Regions from separate parts of the Homo sapiens genome. Here region 1 is linked to region 2. The links come from fine-mapping of genetic effects on gene expression. A gene starts in region 2. The other region holds a variant in brackets. All regions are shown on one strand. Distances are between the middles of the regions.

The links.
Region 1: its variant is fine-mapped to the expression of CCDC136 in whole blood (INTERVAL, PIP 0.97).

Annotation. Positions count from the first base shown.
Region 1 is chr7:128,816,752-128,825,761 of GRCh38, forward strand. It overlaps CCDC136 (coiled-coil domain containing 136), which reads left to right. Exons shown (of 18, transcript NM_022742.5): 17 at 1,007-1,113; 18 at 5,048-5,379. The coding sequence ends at 1,108. Among named protein-coding and RNA genes, the nearest start is that of FLNC, 9.1 kb to the right of the region's middle. The variant C/T (reference allele first, on the strand shown) is at 3,940.
Region 2 is chr7:128,788,666-128,797,711 of GRCh38, forward strand. CCDC136 (coiled-coil domain containing 136) reads left to right here and starts at 3,303. Exons shown (of 18, transcript NM_022742.5): 1 at 3,303-3,762; 2 at 5,683-5,937; 3 at 6,029-6,103. The coding sequence starts at 3,747. RefSeq lists silencers at 2,410-2,879, 2,418-2,686.

The DNA of each region.
Region 1 (9,010 bases), 28 kb after region 2:
GAGTATTTCCTGTGTAAGTCCTCAGCTTACATTACAGGTTCTTTCTGTTCTAAACAGAGGTAAAGAAAAAAAGCCTCTTGTGGTGGGATTATCCAGTCAACTCTGAGGATATCTGGAATTTCCAGCAATTTGGTCTTCAGCACTGGCTAAGGATCCAGTGTGCAGTGCTCTGCTTACCTTGTGCCAGGGGACCATTACCTAAGATGTGGAAAGTCGGAACCACTGCAGCCCCTCCCACTATCATGTTTCCTTGAGCTCATCATATTCCACCACGTGCTGGTTCAGAGCCTCACAGATGTCTTTACCTTCGGTGCCACATTTCTAAAGCTAGACCTGATTTTTCTACTTCAAATATATTCTATGTTTCTATATATGGAGAGATCCCTTTGCCCCGTGGGTCCTGCGTCTTTTGCAGGCAGCTCTAGGGCATGTGTATTACCACCTTGCAAAATCGGTTTCTCTCTGGAAGATTGTTGCAGTGAAAGAACTAGCCCTTCTCCATTGTCAGTTTGTTTCGGTGCATGTTGTCTTACAATGATATCATTAGATTCCTAGGGGATCTAAGGGACCAGAGCCCAAAATACTAAGAAACTTAATGGAAAGCAGGCTAGAACAAAGGGACAGGTGACCTGGTAGAAGACTGGCTCTTCCTAGAGTGACCTAGGAAAAGTCACAAGAAAGGTCTAGATGCAGATACCTCCTGCTTGACAGGATATGAGAGGTATGTGACGAGACAGAAAGAAAACTGGACTCACCGCCTGACTTGGACCTAGCTGCTGCTTAACCCATTCAATTTTGCAATTCCTGCAGACTGCCGGTGGAAAGAACCAAGGCCCAGGCAGCAGAAAAGACATGCAACTGCTCTAGCTTACCTGTTTTTTAACCTCTTGATTCCTTTCTCTTTTCCCTTTGTTTTCTCATCTTCATTATCTGTTGGATCCATGCGTTTATGTCTCACATCTCCTGGTCTCTCCTCGTGCTTCTTTCTCATTTTGGTGTGTTGCAGTCATCCCCTACCCCCAATCCCCCCATCTTCTCCTTGCCTCTTGTAGGCCTGGTGGTCATCTCGGCTTTGCTCTGGTGCTGGTGGGCTGAGACGTCGTCCTAATGCAGGTACTGGTATTGCTTCCTCTCCTTCTGAGGGATAGAGGGAGGGTGCAGGTTGCCCTGGCCTCTCCTCTTTCCCTTTTCTCCCAGCTGCTTGCTTCTTGCTTGTGCCATTTTATAATAGGTGATGCTCAGGTCTGAGTTTTAGTTCTGACTTTTCCTTGGGCTACTGCAAAGCCTCTGACATCTCTGAGCATGTCTTCGTAATGCATAGGAGGTTGGAATGCTTGCCAGAGACATGGTTTGTTTCAATCCTTGGCTGGGAAAAACTTGGATAAGCCCAGCTTGGTTGCTGCTGTCAAAGCTGCCTCACTACTTCTTTATCCCCGCTCATCCTCTGTGTGATGGCTAGCCTGACCACTTCTGATGAGCTGATATTTGCAAGGCTGGCCTGGACTCTCTTTGTCTTGGTTTAACTCCGGAGCCAAGTTCTCACTACTGTTGCTACCCAAGATGGCAAAATAAGGAATCCCTCTTCTGTTGGGAGAGAGAGGAGCTCTGAAGAGCTCTGATCCTCATGATCCTCCCAGGGGCATTGGTAGGAGGGCAACCTAAGCTGGTCCATCAAGCTTGGTGAAATGGAACCGAACCCCTACTGTATTCTGCTCTTTCTACTGAACAGTTCTCTGCTTCTGGACTTCCAGTCTCCGGAAAAGTCAGAACAGAATGCCGGGAAATTTTATTAGTTATCTATTTATCTATTTTGTGGGCCAGATTCCATGGTAATTGGCTTCCCCAGCTAGGTTTTCTGGAGAGAATGAGGTATTAGTGAAAAGTTTCTACTAGCCAGAGATGTGTGTTCTCAGGAAATCAAGACTGATATATTCTGGCCACTTTCCTGTCAGCTCCCACACATGTAATGTACACTGTCAACAGGATACCAAATTCAGGAGGCAGAATGTGGTCTTACGGCCTAAGGTAGAAGCCTGGGGTTCCACCTGCCTTCTGGAACCCATAAGGTATTCTCTCTAGTCCTGCATTGGCTCCTCTCTCATGCTTTCCCTGCCTCCCCCTCCACTCCCCTCTCTTCTCACATTCCTGTGAACGGAATGTAGCTTAATGCACAGGGTGGCAACTGGAGGATTTGTTGGTGGCACTTCTCTCCATTTCCTTTTCTGTCCTTCCTCCTGCTCCCTCCCCAGCTTTCCTGTTACTCATCTTCAAGCCTCCACTTTTCTTCTTGACTTTAGGTATTCCCTTTACTCCCTGGTCCACAACTGCTTTAGTGACGGGGCCCCTCTCTATGACTGTTTCTCCCCTGTCACCCCCCAGAAGTCTTAAGGCACTACGGGTGAAACCCAAAGAGTTCAGCCACAGCCTTCCACTACCTCAGACCCAGCCCGGCCCAATCAGAGGGAGAGGAAGAACTGCTGGTGAAGGGTTCTCCTGGTGGGGCCTGTTATCCCCAGAGCTCCAGGAGGCCCCAACATGCACCTGTGCAGCCAGGACCTGAGGGAGCACAGTGTGGTAGAAAGCGTGGCTGCCAGGCGGTCAGAAGAACTTGGTTGAGTCTGTCTCTACTGACAGGCGTTGTCCCAGGGAGCAAAATGCACACTCTGAGCTCTAGTTTCTTCAAATGTAAGCAAAGGATGATCGAACCTCTGCCCTCCTCACAGGTTTTTGTCAGGACCAGATGGGTTGAAGTAGATGAAAGTATTCTATAAATTATAAAATACCCCATCATTAATAAAAAGAGCACGCACTTACAAAATGCAGTCTTATGTGTCAGGCACTGTTCTAATCACTTACGTATATTAACTGATTTAATCCTTGCAACAACCCCATGAAGAAGCTACTCCTATTTTTTTTTATATATGATTAAACTAAGGCATAGAGAAGTTAAGTAAAACAGCCAGGAAGCTGCGAGTCAGATTATAAGGACTCAATATTAGCAACAAATAAGATTCCAGTCTTGCTTCCCTTTATTGTCTCTCCTCATTTTGAGCAGTTTCTCTTCATTGGTCCCAAGTAGGAAGACACCATACTTGTGTTTAGGCAACCTCAGATCACATTAGCTCTTTAGGTAACTAATATATTATTTATTTATTTCATGTATTTTTTATAAGCCCCTCTGCAGATTGTGTATGCTAAGCGTCCTCTCCCCATTCTGTACCTGCATTTGATTTTGAGGCTTCAAAGGCAGAATTTTCCATTCTTCCCTATTATAGTTCATTGTTCTTACCTTATAAGGTTTTGTGTGTATGTGTTTTTAATCTTGACCCTGTGGTTTTAAAATATTCACTTCCTCTGCCACCTTCACATCATCTACAGGGGTGGCAAGCCCTCCTTCCCTGTCTTCATCTACAGAGGACAGAGTGAGGACAGAGCCTCTAGAGTGTCGTCTCTTGGGGTTCTTTTATTCAGCTCATTGGTCACTTACCTGCCATTCAACAAACTGTACTGTCATCCTACCCTTATTTCTGCATATTATCTGCAAAGATCATAGAAAATTCTGTCAAACAACTCAACGTCCAAAAACATGATTCCGGTGATTTGTCACTTAGGTCACCTAGTTTAAAAGGAGAGTTTGACACGACTTCCCCTTTGGGACACCCACACCAGCCCTTTCCCCATCCCATGTAGAAGCTTGCCTTTGCCCAGTGTGAGGTGCACGGGTCACATTTAAGGATTTCAGCTCCTCCCTCCTTTAAGAACACCAGACTAACATTCTTAGCAATGCACATTAGGATAGAGGCATCTGAGCATATAAATATTTTTTTCTAGCTAGCTCCCTTCTTAGTTTTTGTTTTTGGTTTTAGAGACAGGGTCTCGCTCTGTCACCGAGGCTAGAGTGCAGCGGCATGATCATGGCTCACTGTAACTTTGAACTCC[C/T]GGTCTCAAGCGATCCTCCTCCCTCAGCCTCCGGATCTCTTGGTTTTCTTACATGAGTTACTCTGTATATCCACCTGTAACATTGCTTGGCTTTCCATTTCATACCTTCTGTTGTTCTTAGTAGCTATTTCTATAAGCTCAGGAGATTTTCTTTGCTCTTTAGCAGGCTTAAAGTCCTCTTTTTAGATCAATTATCATCTGAGAAAATGTGTTCTTAGCATTAATGGGCTATATTCCATTTTTACTTGAAACCATCCTTCTGTTACCTATGCCATAGCTTATGACTCAAAATCCAAATTCTACCTTTCAGTTAGTAGAGTAAAAAAGTAATAAAAATAAAACCTATTTCCCCAAGTATGTATTTTCTTGTCTAAGATTTTCATATTACCTAATGGATGCTTTTTGGATATCTTCGATGGTGCCACTTGTCCCATGAATCAGCAGGGTTCCCTAGTGGCCGGCAGTGTCTGGAAGCCTCAGCATACTCTAGCACATGCACCAGGAAGTCAGTCAACATACCTGGTGATTAGGAGTGTTCTAATGACCTAGGCCCAGTGACAGGTTTCCTTAAATTTCCTTGAACCAATGTCATTCTCTGTCAAAGTTTGTCTGCCTAAGAACCTCCTACTTACCTGCACTCCGTGGTGCACTTTCTTCATTTCCCCTCAGCCTTATTCCCCCTTCCCCATCCTCTTGACTCTGAGTTCACTTCACTGCAGTGAAACTAATGAGGTGCTGCTGCTTTTCTCAAAGCCCCAGATTTCCCCTCCTCTTTCTTGCCATGGCATCCAGTCCTTTCTCATTGCAACCACTTGGAAGTCTGGCCCCTGAGCCTGCTTCTTCACATGGGAGCTAGTATTCTCAGCCCATGGGGAGAAACGGAGGCCTGAATACAGGCGGTCACCTAAGGTGGTGCGTACAGTGTTGGGCCACATGTCTAGTGGTGCCAGGACTGAGAGATCACTTACCTCCACCGGTTACCCAGGAGGTAACAGAGACTGATCCACAATGTTCCTGAGGTGTCTTGGGCACCCATAGGCAGGTGACTTCTGGCTTAGGGCAGGGTTCAGGAGGCTGGGCACTCACAGTTTCTCTTTGGTCCCCACAGAACATGTTTGGGTTGTGGAAGCCTATGGTATTCTTGGCTATTGCAGCTGTGGCTCTGTATGTGTTACCCAACATGCGACAGCAGGAGTCAGAGTTCTGCCTCATGGAGTGATGGCAGACCTTGGCCAGCGCGAGGGCAGATCCCCAGTGGCCACCACCCTCAGCTTTGGGCAGGACACACTGTGCCAGAACCCTCCCCATATGTTCCATGTGTCCCCATCTCCTCAGCCTCAGTCACCCAGGCTGAAAAGGCTTGTGGGGAGCGGCTGACTTCCATCTCCTGCCTTGTGTAAGAACCTGAGTTCCTTGTAATTAAATATCAACTGAATTACATGAGACTGTGGATTTTTATTTGCTAAATGCCTCACAACACAACCAGAACAGAGCAGTCCCCCTTTAACCAAGTACCTCACATAAGGGTCTGACTCCTAAATGCGGCTTCTCACCTTGCAGATGGCCTCAGAAATGAGGCTAGCCCCTTGTGCTGTCGACTGACTCACAGAGGGGTTAGTCTGTGCTTATTAACCCCATCCTGAGGTGCTCTCCTGAGCATGGAGAAATGGAGTGACTGAGGGCTGGGGAGACCTCCCCTAAGGTTCTGTGCCCACACCTATCTACATGAGAAGGCCGCCCTAAGAAGATCCACGTGTGTGCCTTCGTGACTTAGCCTTTGTGACTTCTCAAGGGATTCGCCCTCAGAGATGACTTTAATCAGCCAGGGTCCTGGCAGTAAACAGGTGGCACACTCAAAGCTTTACATGAAGAGAGTTTAATGAAGAGACTATGTACCAAAGGCAGAGTTAGGAGAAGCAACAAAAAATAGTGAAGTACCAGGCACTAGCAACAGTGTAAAGCTGTTAGCATCCCAGGCTGAAGCAGGAAGGAAAGGAAGCAAGAGCTGGAGCTCTGAAAATGGGCCCCAGGCAGGAGTGGCAGCCACATGGGGTGCAGCCCCCGCCAGAGCCGTGAGGAAGTGGGATATATATTCCCCTACCTTCTCCTCCCACCTGCCAGTATTCTACTGGTACCTTATCAGCTGAACTCAATGGGAAGACAAAGCGCAGAGGTGCCCAGGTGATGTAATCTTTCAAGCTCAGCCTCCTGGAGCTTAGAGCAGGACAGAGGCCTGAAGATGGATCTAATTGGGACAAGTAGAATGATGAGGATAGTTTATGTGTGTTCCTGTTTACCTTCATTCCTGTGGAACCTTTGTGATTGGAGTTTATCATCATGAATGTTTCCTTACGAAAGAAGACCCCAAGCGTATTCTTTTTATTTCTTTCTTTTTTTCTTTTTCTTTTTTTTTTTTTGAGACAGGGTCTCACTCTGTCACCCAGGCTGGAGTGCAGTGGCACCATCTTGGCTCACTGCAACCTCCACCTCCTGAGCTCAAGTGCCTCCCACTTCAGCCTCCCAAGTAGCTGGGACCACAGGCATACACCACCATGCCCAGCTAATTTTTATATTTTCTGTAGAGACAGAGTTTCACCATTTTGCCCAGGCTGGTCTCAAATTCCTGGGCTCAAGCAATCCTCCTGCCTCAGCCTGCCCAAAGTGCTGGGATTACAGGCATGAGGCATATTGCCCAGCCCCAAGCATATTCTTAAACCATAGTGGAAACAATGACCCCATGACTCCTGGCTTTCTTTGGACCCCTCTTTCTTCCTCCCTCCCACCCAAAAGGACTTTGTTCCATTCAATCAAACATCCAAAGAAACACATGTACAGAGTGTATACTGTGGTAGCACTGCCAAGCTAAATGAATTCTTTCCTTCTCTAGCTCTTACCTACAGGGAGTAGCAAGGACATTTAGAATTAGGATATTTTCAAGTTGTATTCAGCCCAGAGAAGTGACACGGCTGAATCAAAAGTCCATTTTGGCAGACATGGGGCTAGTGCTGAAATTGTGACTAGCCTCCTAGAAACGTGACTGCAACTAGGCAAACTGAGGACAGTGCCATATGCCTCTTTTGCCTTTGTCTAAATCAGCGGTCCCCAACCTTTTTGGCACCGGGGACCGGTTTCATGGAAGACAATTTTTCCACAGATGGAGAGGGGATGGGGATGGTTTCGGGATGAAACTGTCCCACCTCAGAGCATCAGGCATTAGCTAGATTCTCGTAAGGAGTGTGCAACCTAGATCCCTCACATGCGCAGTTCACAATAGGGTTCCTGCTCCTTATGAGAATCTAATGCTGCCACTGATCTGACAAGAGGCAGAGCTCAGGTGGTAATGCTTGCCTAGCCACCACTCACCTAATGCTGTGTGGCCAAGTTCCTGACAGTATCGGTCCATGGCCTGGGGATTGTGCACCCCAGCTCTAAGTGACTCCTCTTTGAAGACAGTTCTGACCTAGGCTGGTCTAGCTTCTTGCTAGTCCATGTGACCCACAGATCTGCAGCATCAGCATTGCCCGGGAGCTTATTTGAAAGGCAGATCTCAGGCCCCAACCCAGACCTACTGATGCAGAATCTGCATTTCCAACAAGATGCCCAGTTGATTCGTATGCACGGTAACATTTGAGAAGCACCACCCTAGTCAATTATATTAGATTGTATGTTCTCAGTTGTAACCTAAAGAAATTATTTCACAACTGACCTGGTGCCACTGGCTGCTTGCTTTTCAGTATAGTGAGACTGCTATTTACCCACTTTACTGCCGCCACCAGTTGACTGAAGAACATGGGTATGGGTGGTGGAAAGGACTTATAGCCAAATGCTATGGTAAGCATGTTTGTGTCTGCCCCCTATCCTGCAAATTCATATGTTGAAACCCTAACCCCTAAAGTGATAATATTAGGAGGGGGGCTTTGGGAGGTGATTAGGTCATGAGACCAAAGGCCTCAGGAGTGGGATCAGAGCCCTTATTAAAGAGACTTCAGAGAGATCCCTCACCCTTTCTGCCACGTAAGTTTATAGTAAGACTACAGCCAGGCCGGGCGCAGTGGCTCATGCCTGTAATGCCAGCACTTTGGGAGGCCGAGGCGGGCGGATCACCTGAGGTCAGGAGTTCGAGACCAGCCTGACCAACATGGAGAAACCCCATCTCTACTAAAAATACAAAAAATTAGCCGGGCGTGGTGGCACATGCCTGTAATCCCAGCTACTCGGGAGACTGAGGCAGGAGAATCGCTTGAACCTGGGAGGCAGAGGTTGTGGTGAGCCGAGATCATGCCATTGCACTCTAGCCTGGGCAACAAGAGTGAAACTCCATCTCAAAAAGAAAACAAAACAAAACAAAACAAAACAAACTACAGCCATCTGTGAGGGAGTAGGCCCCTCGCCAGACATGGAATCTGCAGGCATCTTGATCTCAGACTTCCTAGCCTCCAGAATTGTAAGACATAAATTCTTGTTGTTTATAAGCCACCCGGTCTATAGTGTTTTGTTACAGCAGCCCAAATGGACTAAGACAGCAAAGATCACTGATTTAACCTGGAATTACAAGCCAGGATAGAGGTCAGGTTCTAGTAGGGTGGTCCCCAGCTAGGGGACCTGAACCTAGACCCTGCCTAATGACAGGAATGTGGGCCTGCTTTTCCCACTTTTTTGCTTAGACTACAAAACCCCTCCCTTTAGGACATGTCCTTCTCTGTTCATTTCATTGATTAATTGATTGATTGATTGAGACAGGGTCTGGCTTTGTTGCCCAGGCTGGAGTGCACTCGTGCAATTTCGGCTCACTGCAACCTCCACCTTCCAGGCTCAAGCCATCCTCCCACCTCAGTTTCCAGAGTAGCTGGGACTACAGGTGCTCACCACCGCGCACAGCTAATTTTTGTATTTTTTGCAGAAATGGGGTTTTGCCATGTTGCCCAGGCTGCTCCAAACTCCTGAGCTCAAGTGAATCGCCCGCCTCGGCCTCCCAAAGTGCTGGGATTACAGGTGTGAGCCACTGCACCCGGCCCTCCGTTCATTTTAGAATCCCATTCTCTTCATTTGGTTTGGACTGTCTCCTTGTCTT
Region 2 (9,046 bases):
GTTGATCACCTGGCTGACATGCCCACCACTCCTGGCCCCTCAGAGATGCATTTCTGGACCACAGCCCACCTCCCTCATATCTCTTAAGCTCTTTTCTCCCGCCTTTTAACTGCCTCCCTCCGCCCTCAACCCAGTACTGGTCTGGCCAGGGTTTGACCAAGTTTGGCTCCTGAAAATAGACTGGTTCAGGTCTCTCTTAAATGTTCTCCCAAATCAAGGGTGAAAGGTGACCTGCATGCCAGGAGCCAGGGAGAGATTAGTCCTAATACTCAGGATCAGAGCTCCCTGAGGAGAGCTTGAACCCTGGATGTCACCATCGACAATTTCCCTGCTGTGCCTCCCTACATTCACCAAGAGGTCAGCAGTCAAGGCCAACCGCTAACGTGGCCCTGCTGGCGGAGGCAGAACCAGGAGGAGCTGCGCTGGGCAGAAAGAACAGCCAGTAAGCTTCCAGAACTAGTCTTTGCCAGTTCCCAGAGCACTGCATCCCTCAAGCCCCCAGTGCAGCCCCTTTCTACCACCCCTGACAAATGCTCTGCTCCCCAAATCTGGACAGGCTTGGCGTCTGCAGTAAACCCTCTGCAGAAGGGGTCTGGGTGGGCTTGTTCAACTTTCCCCACAACTGTGTCACCTTGGCCACAGGATCTGGAGTAGAATCTTGTCATCTGGGAGCAAAGAAAACATTCTTGATCTCTGCTCATCATCTCTCTGCTGAGATAATGAGAGAGGCAGAGGAAGAAAAAAGGAGCAAGGAGTTGGGGGAGGGAGAGAGACTTATGGGCAACATCATCATTAATAGGCAACATTTAACACCACAAATATGAAATCATGTTAAATGATAAGACAGGGCATTAACTGGGTAGCTGGGAGATTGACCTTTAACTCATTTATCCTGTGTCAGAAACTCTGTCAGATGCTGGAAATACAAAGATAACTAAGATCCCCCTAACCTTCAGGAAACTGGGCAGAGCCCGGACAACCCGGAGGGCCTGGTGCTGTTACAGACAAATAGGGGCGAGCACCACAAAAGCGCCTAGTGGGGCAGGGATGGGGTGCCAGTCAGAGAAGGCCACCTGGAGGTGACCCCCAGCTGAAAAGGAGGGGGAAGTCCAGGCAAAGAAGGGCTTCCTTCCCGTGGAACAGGGATGGCTTGTGGACGTGGGAGCCTGTGGGATGTCAGAGACATTTGAGCCAGAGCAACTCCATCTTGAATAGAAGCTGGGTAAAATGAGGCTGAGACCTACTGGGCTGCATTCCCAGACGTTTAAGGAATTCTAAGTCACAGGATGAGATAGGAGGTTGGCACAAGACACAGGTCATAAAGACCTTGCTGATAAAACACCTTGCAGTAAAGAAGCCGGCCAAAACCCACTAAAACCAAGATGGCAGTGAGAGTGACCTCTAGTAATCCTCACACTGTTACACTCCCACCAGTGCCATGACAGTTTACAAATGCCATGGCAACATCAGAAAGTTACCCTACATTGTCTGAAAGGGGGTGTCAGGAATAAACCACCCCTTGTTTAGCATATCATCAAGAAATAACCAAAAAAAGCAGCCCTTGGGGCTGCTCTGTCTATGGAGTAGCCATTCTTTATTCCTTTACTTTCCTAATAAACTTGCTTTTAGTTTATCCTATGGACCTCCCTGAATTCTTTCTTGCGTGAGATTCAAGAACCCTCTGTTGCGGTCTGGATCCGGATCCCTTTCCTGCAGCGGGGGGAACGCAGACAATACTAGCCCTCGACCTGTGAGTGGATGTGCCAGAGAGGGGATCCGCGTGTGTCCCTGGCTTAGGAATCTTCCAGCCATTTCCTGGATGTGCTGGGGAGCCCCTGTTCCCAACTGTGCCCACTTCTATCCTTGCCGAGACCTGCCGAGATGTGAGAACTGCCTCTTCAAGAGCCGGCACCCAGTAGTCATAGCCTGAATAAACGAATGGTTGAAGACGTGAAATAAGCCCCCTGGGCTTCCAAATCTCCCTTCCACGAGAGTGAACATCAGTCGTGCCCACTCTGAGCGGGCTACTGTGGGGGCGTGGCTCGCAGCCCACCGGGTGTGGGACCGGAAGGGAAGACAGGGCGGAGGAGAGGGGGTCTTCCGGCCCTGAGGCTTGATGGGGCCACCGGAGGGCTCCTCCTAAGAGGGTCCTTGGCCCTGGCTCGGTGGGGGGTCGCGGAAAGCGGAGAGGTCAGGGCCCTGCCGTTCGCCCATCCGGGCCTCGACTTCCCTCCTCCGGCCCCCAGGCTGCCGAGGGGCCACCGGGCAGGGGTGGGCAGGGCCTGGGGCCGGAGTCAGCGCGGACTGCTAGGTGGGGGCGCCGGCCGGGCGGGGGAGGGAGGGAAGGAGGGGCGCGCGTGTCTGCGCTTTTGGAGGAAACAGTCCCACCTCGTCCTTTGCCGTCCCCATTGCTGAGCATGACCGGGCCCTGACACCTGGTGCAGAAGGGTCCCTGGGCACAGCAGACCCCGGGGGGACCCGCCGCCAGAACCAGGGGATCTCGCTCCTCCCTCTTGGGGCAGCCATAAGCCTAGGAGCTCCTGACGCTGTCCGGGCCCCGCGGCTCCCCGCGCTCTCTAGGGGAGAGCCTTGGGGCGTATCCGGGGTCGCGCTCACCCTCCCGCGCCGCCCCCTGCACGGGCTCGGAGCTCCCGAGTGCTGGGAGGGCTTCCGGGCGGCGGCGAGCGGCGGGGGGCGGTGTCAGGAGGCCCGGCCAGGCCCCGCCCCCTCGTCCGCCCTCCCTCCCTCCCTGCGCACCCGGCTCGGGTCCCCGGGCTCGCGGCTGCGGCTTCTGCTCAGGGAGGCGGAAGGCGGCGGCGGGAGCGGTCATGGAGGCGGGCGCCGGAGCCGGCGCGGGAGCCGCGGGCTGGAGCTGCCCGGGCCCAGGTCAGAGCCGCCCCTCCGTCACCTGTCTACCGCCCCTCCTTTCTCTCCTCCATCCCTCCTCCTTCCAGACCCCCAGGTGCTCCCGGCCTCCGCGGCTCCCCTTTCTCCGCCCAAAGTCTTCCTCCCTCCATCCTGGCCTCCACCGGGGCCCGGTCTCCATCCTTCCGGCCTGGGACTGAGGCTTCCGCGCACCGGCCGCATCCTGCCTGGTGGTCCCTCCCCAGCGCGTCTCTCCACTTCAGTCCGACGGTGCTTCCAGCCTTCGGGACTGCAGACCCTACACCTCCTGCAGCCCCGGAGACTCCTGAGCGCGGGGCGAGGGTGGGGTGGGCAAGGTCCAGCGAGAGAATGGGAGGAGAGGGGAGGGGAGCGGTCGCAGCCCTACCCCTTCCCGCACGCCCCCCACTCCTCCCTCCCTCCATCTGTAGGCCACCTCAGCCTTTCAGCCTCTTCTTCACTGGCTCCCGCCCTCTTTCAGTCTTGGCCCTCTCCTCCCTGTCCCCCCGGACTAAATACGCACACCCCCTCTTTCTTTCTGTGCAAGCAAGAGGGTCCTGGAACAGCGGGTTCTGAGGAGGCTGGGAGGCAGGGCTGAGAGGTGGCCGAGAGAGAGGAGTCGCAGAGCCGCCAGAGTGAGTCAGGCACCTCCACTGGGATTACAGATCCCAGAGCCTCGAGGAGCTGGAAGACATGTCCCCTTCTTTCCTCTGCACCCCAGCCCGCAGCCAGCCCCCCACCCCCCAGCCCCTCCTTTCTCCCTGCTCTCAGGACCCACAGTGACCACTCTAGGCTCCTATGAGGCTTCCGAGGGCTGTGAGAGGAAGAAGGGCCAACGCTGGGGGTCCCTGGAACGACGGGGGATGCAAGCTATGGAGGGTGAGTTTTCCCAAAAGGCTTCTTTCTTTCCCCTCCCCTCCTCCCTTAATTCCCTTCTTTCCTCCCTCTGACCCCCAGGCCTCTGAGCCAGGACACAGCCCTTCCCTCAGTTCATCTTAGCCCCTCTTCCTGCAGCTCAGAGCTCCAGCCCTTCCCAGGGCTCAGGCTTTGACAGAAGTTCAGGATGCATCCCTTCGGGACCCCAATCACCCCCCAGCTAACCAGGTTATGTGTCCCGAGGGAGCTGCCAGACAGAGAAAGAGGCCTTGTTGGACAGAGCTTTGAAGCAGCCTTTCAGCAGGGGGTTTGTCCTCACTGCCTGCCGACCCAGATCCCAAGCTGTCTCTTATTTTAAAAAGCAAGGAACTGGGCATGTGAATTGTCTTTCTGGGGCCACCAACATTAACTTCGAATGGAAGCCTGTGGCTTTGGTTCTTTAGGATACCTTATTGCCTGAAAGAGAGAGCCTAGGAGGGGGCGCGTGAGGCCATCCTCCCAACACACGTGTATCCCCACCACACCCATGTGACTTGGCAGTTGCTGCCAACACCAGGCCCCTGGAAGGACGCTGGTCCATTTGCCAGTACTTCCTGTGAAGTGTTGCACGTTGCACATTCAGTATGGGCAAACCTGCTCCCCCTAAGGGGGACAGATGGCACGAAGGGTCCCAGTTGAACCTAAGGCTGCTGATATTAGATAAAGTAAGACCAGAGATTCAGAATTTTAAAACAAAGCAAACAATCACCATCCAGACAACATTTTGCTATTTATAGGGACTGCGTTGCAGTAAAGGAGCGGGTGCTCACAACCAGAGGCTGGGGGCCAGCACCAAACCCCAGTTTTTTTAATGCATTAAAATGGTAGGCTTTCTTTTACACACAAGTACAGCCTAAAACTTCCCCTGAAATCTACTTTGTGGTCAGCAGAGTAGGAGGGGCCTCATATGGCTCAGCTAGGGGAGAGGAGACCTTGTGACATGCAGCAGGGAAAAACAAGGTGGACCTTGTAGAAAATTTCAAACAGGTATTTAATAATATACATTTGAAAGGGCGCCCGAGTTTGTCCAATGAAACCTCTACAATCAGATATTTTCTTTCTCTACCTGCTGACGGGCAATGTTTTCTTATTATGGAAAGGCTGATTTTTCACAAGCCACCTGGATAGTTTTTGTTTGGTTGTTTTTGTTTGTTTGTTTGTTTGAGACGGAGACTCACTCTGTTGCCCAGGCTGGAGTGCCAGTGGCTCGATCTCGCCTCACTGCAACCTCCAGTTCCCAGGTTCAAGCGATTCTCCTGCCTTAGCCTCCCAAGTAGCTGGGATTACAGGCGTGTACTACCACGCCCAGCTAATTTTTTTGTATTTTTAGTAGAGAAGGGGTTTCACCATGTTGACCGGGCTGGTTTGGAACTCCTGGCCTCAAGTAATCCACCCACCTCAGCCTCCCAAAGTGCTAGGATTACAGGCATGAGCCAGCATGCCTGGTCAGTTTTGTTTTGTTTTTTAACTTTCAAGAAATCTCCAAACTGTAACTGTTACCCCATTTGACCGAAAGATCCGCTCACTGTCTCCTTTCTTGACTACTTGTCCTGCTACTCAGAGGCCAGCCTAGAAGAAGCAGGTAATCCTGTGCAAGTGTCTCATGGCTGAGCGGGCACCAGCCTGCCCACAGGCAGTGATAGGAGGCTACCAAGTGCAACATTGGTCCAGGAAGGGCCTGGGAGGTGGAGGGGCTGCTTCTCAACTTGACTCTCACACCTGAGGACTCATCTTGAGTACAGGTCTTGCCCCGGGGCTCCTTGGGGGACACCAGGTGGCACTAGTATGTCATCTCTGCCCTGGCATAGTGAGTTTGAGGGCCCTGGAAGGACGGCAGAAAGGAAGTTGATGCTGACTCCTTGGTGGGATGGCTGTGTCTCCTAGGGGAGGTGTTACTCCCAGCTCTCTATGAGGAGGAAGAGGAAGAGGAAGAGGAGGAAGAAGAGGTGGAAGAAGAAGAAGAACAAGTGCAGAAAGGTGGCAGTGTTGGCTCTCTGTCAGTCAACAAGCACCGGGGACTGAGCCTCACGGAGACAGAGCTGGAGGAGCTGCGGGCTCAGGTGCTGCAGCTGGTGGCAGAACTGGAGGAGACCCGGGAACTGGCAGGGCAGCATGAGGATGACTCCTTGGAGCTACAGGGTGAGTGCCTGGGCCAGGGCCCAGTGCCCGGGCCCAGAGGCTCTGCACTCCCCTGGATCCGAGCTTGACACTGGTGCCCCTCTCCCTGCAGGGCTCCTGGAGGATGAACGGCTAGCCAGCGCCCAGCAGGCAGAGGTGTTCACCAAGCAGATCCAGCAGCTCCAAGGTAATTCCCAGGACTTGGACTGGAGGGAGGTGGCCATCCAAGTGGTCACCTAAGTACTTTTTTCCTGAGGGTTTGACTGAAGCACAGCAGATAAAAATAACCAAATTCAGTAATTTCACCTCATTTTCCTCTACTAGTCTCACCCTTTTCCTCTCCTTGTCTCTCCATCCTCCTCTGTCCCCAGTTTTCTTTCTTTGCACATCTACCTGGCTCTTCTGTCCTCCCCTTCCATTTCTTGGCCTCCCTGTCACCTCCTGTCCCTGGTGGGCTCTTTCCTCTTGCCCCTTCAGCCTCCTCCTTCATACTGCATCCCTGTCCCTTTGTTCTCCTGGTCAGTGCCAGGGGTGGGTGATCCAAGTTGAATTCCAAGCCGGATTCCTTTTTCTGGTTCCTCCAAGGATGGCATGGGAAAGCATGAAGCCAATGAGAAGTGACTGGTGGGGCCTCTCTGCACCTATTAAGAGAGACAGATGACAGCACTTCTGTTGCTGCCTGGGACCTGAGCTTGTGGGCCCCAAATCCCTTTTTGCCAACACCCACGTCCCTTTGTCTCTGGGAAGCAGCAAGGCAGATGCCCCACATTCCACCACACCACCAAATAAAGAGGCAGCTTTTGTTACTTCTGTGGGCCTCCGGAAGGTTTAGGGGAGCTGCCCTAGAAAACGGCAGGGACTCTGGGGAGAACTGAGATCAAGCCAAAAGAAAAGTATAAATGGAGAAAAAAAAGGAAGGCCAGGAAGCAGGCCTGGACAGGAGCAAGCAGAGGTGTAAGTGGGGAGGAGAGGAGACGGGGACAGAAAATGTAAGCAAAGGTAGATACAGGAAGGGTGGTCAGTGAAGGGGCTTGCAGAGGAGGAAAGTGGCAGGACACGTGTCACATAGGGAAGAGTGTGGGCATTGATCTGGGATGACCTAGATTCCTGGGCCCAGCTATACCACTTAGAAATTGTGTGATCTTGGGCAAGTCACTTATCTTTCTGAGATGTCATTTCTTATCTGTAAAATGGGACTAATTTATTTATCACCTATTTATGAGGTGCCTTTATACTTGGAGGACCAGCTGTGAATGAGACAGACCACATCTCTGCCCTAATGAAGAGTACATTCTAACGGAGAGAGGCAGAAAATAAACAACACAAGTTCAGATGGCAATAAATGCTATGAACACGATATAATAATATGATACAGAGAGGAGGTGGGATGGGAGTTTATTTTATTTTATTTTGAGACAGAGTCTTACTCTGTTGCCCAGGCTGGAGTGCAATGGCACAATCTCAGCTCACTTCAACCTCTGCCTCCCAGGTTCAAGCGATTCTAGTGCCTCAGCCTCCCGAGTAGCTGAGATTACAGGCATGCGCCACCACACCTGGCTAATTATTGTATTTTTAGTAGAGATGGAGTTTCACCATGTTGGCCAGGCTGGTCTTGAAGGGAGTTTATTTTAGATATGGCAGTTAGGAAAGTCATCTTTGAGAAGATGACATTTGAGCTAAGACCTGAATAATGAAAAGGATCCAGCCATCCAAGATCTGAGGGAGGAGCATACCAGGCAGAAGCAACAGCAACTGCAAAGGCCCAGAGGTGAGAATGAGCTTCATTTGTTTGAGCGACAGAACAGAGGCCACTGTGTTTGCAGCAAAGTGCACGTGGAGGACCCTGGCAAGAGAACGTTCTGAGGCAGGCAGAGGCCAGATTACAGTGGATCTTGTAGGCCAGCCAAGAGGTTTGGCTTTCATGTTAAGTGTGGTAGAAAGCCAGGAGAGGGTCTTAGCCAGGAATGGGATGATACGATCTGCTTTACATTTTTAAAAGAGAACTTGGCCACTAAGTGGAAACACTTAAGATGGAGGGAAGTGACTCAGAACAGTGAGTCCTGTCAGCAAGTTACTGCAATAGTCCAGTCAAGAGATGATGGTCGCTTGAGTTAGGGCTGTAGAAATGGAGATGATTCAGAATATATATATATATATATTCTTTTTTTTTTTTTTTTTGAGACGGAGTCTCGCTCTGTCGCCCAGGCTGGAGTGCAGTGGCGGGATCTCGGCTCACTGCAAGCTCCGCCTCCCGGGTTCACGCCATTCTCCTGCCTCAGCCTCCCAAGTAGCTGGGACTACAGGCGCCCGCCACTACGCCCGGCTAATTTTTTGTATTTTTAGTAGAGACGGGGTTTCACCGTTTTAGCCGGGATGGTCTCGATCTCCTGACCTCGTGATCCGCCCGCCTCGGCCTCCCAAAGTGCTGGGATTACAGGCGTGAGCCACCGCGCCCGGCCCAGAATATATTTTGAAGGTGAAGCCCTCGGGATTTGCTAATGAATTCGATCAGGGGATAACAGAGACATGAAAGATGACTTTGCCTTGAGAAAATTGATGGAAGGTGGTGATGTTTATTGAATTGGGAAAGACTTGGCAAGGGGTAAGTTTTGGGGCTAGGGGAGCCATTTAAAACATGTTTTCCTCTGTTGAGTTTGAAGTAACTGTGGACATCCAAGTGAATATATTGAGGCAGTTGGATATATAAAGGCAGAACCAGGGAGAAAACAGGGCCGGAGATGTAAATTTGGAGTCATTAGCATATAATTGGCATTAGAATCCATGGGAAATAATGGTGCAGTCACATGGAGAGACACCAGAAGAGGAGAAAGGGTCCAGTCCCAGAGACACTCCAGTATTTAGAGGTCCAGTATAGAAGGAGAAATGAACAAAAGAGTAAAGTGAGAGGAACTCCTGGAGCATGTCATGCCCTGTAAGCCAGAGCAGAAAGTGCTTCAAGGAGACAGTGATCCACTGTGTCAGGTTGCTAAGTCAAGTGAGATGGTCTTGGATTTGGCAAGAGAGAGGACCCTGAGACATCTCAGTGCATGGAGGCACCGATTGGATTGGGTTTGGAGAGGAAATGGGAGATGAAGGTGAGTACCGATAACTCCAGTAGTCATTTTGAAGA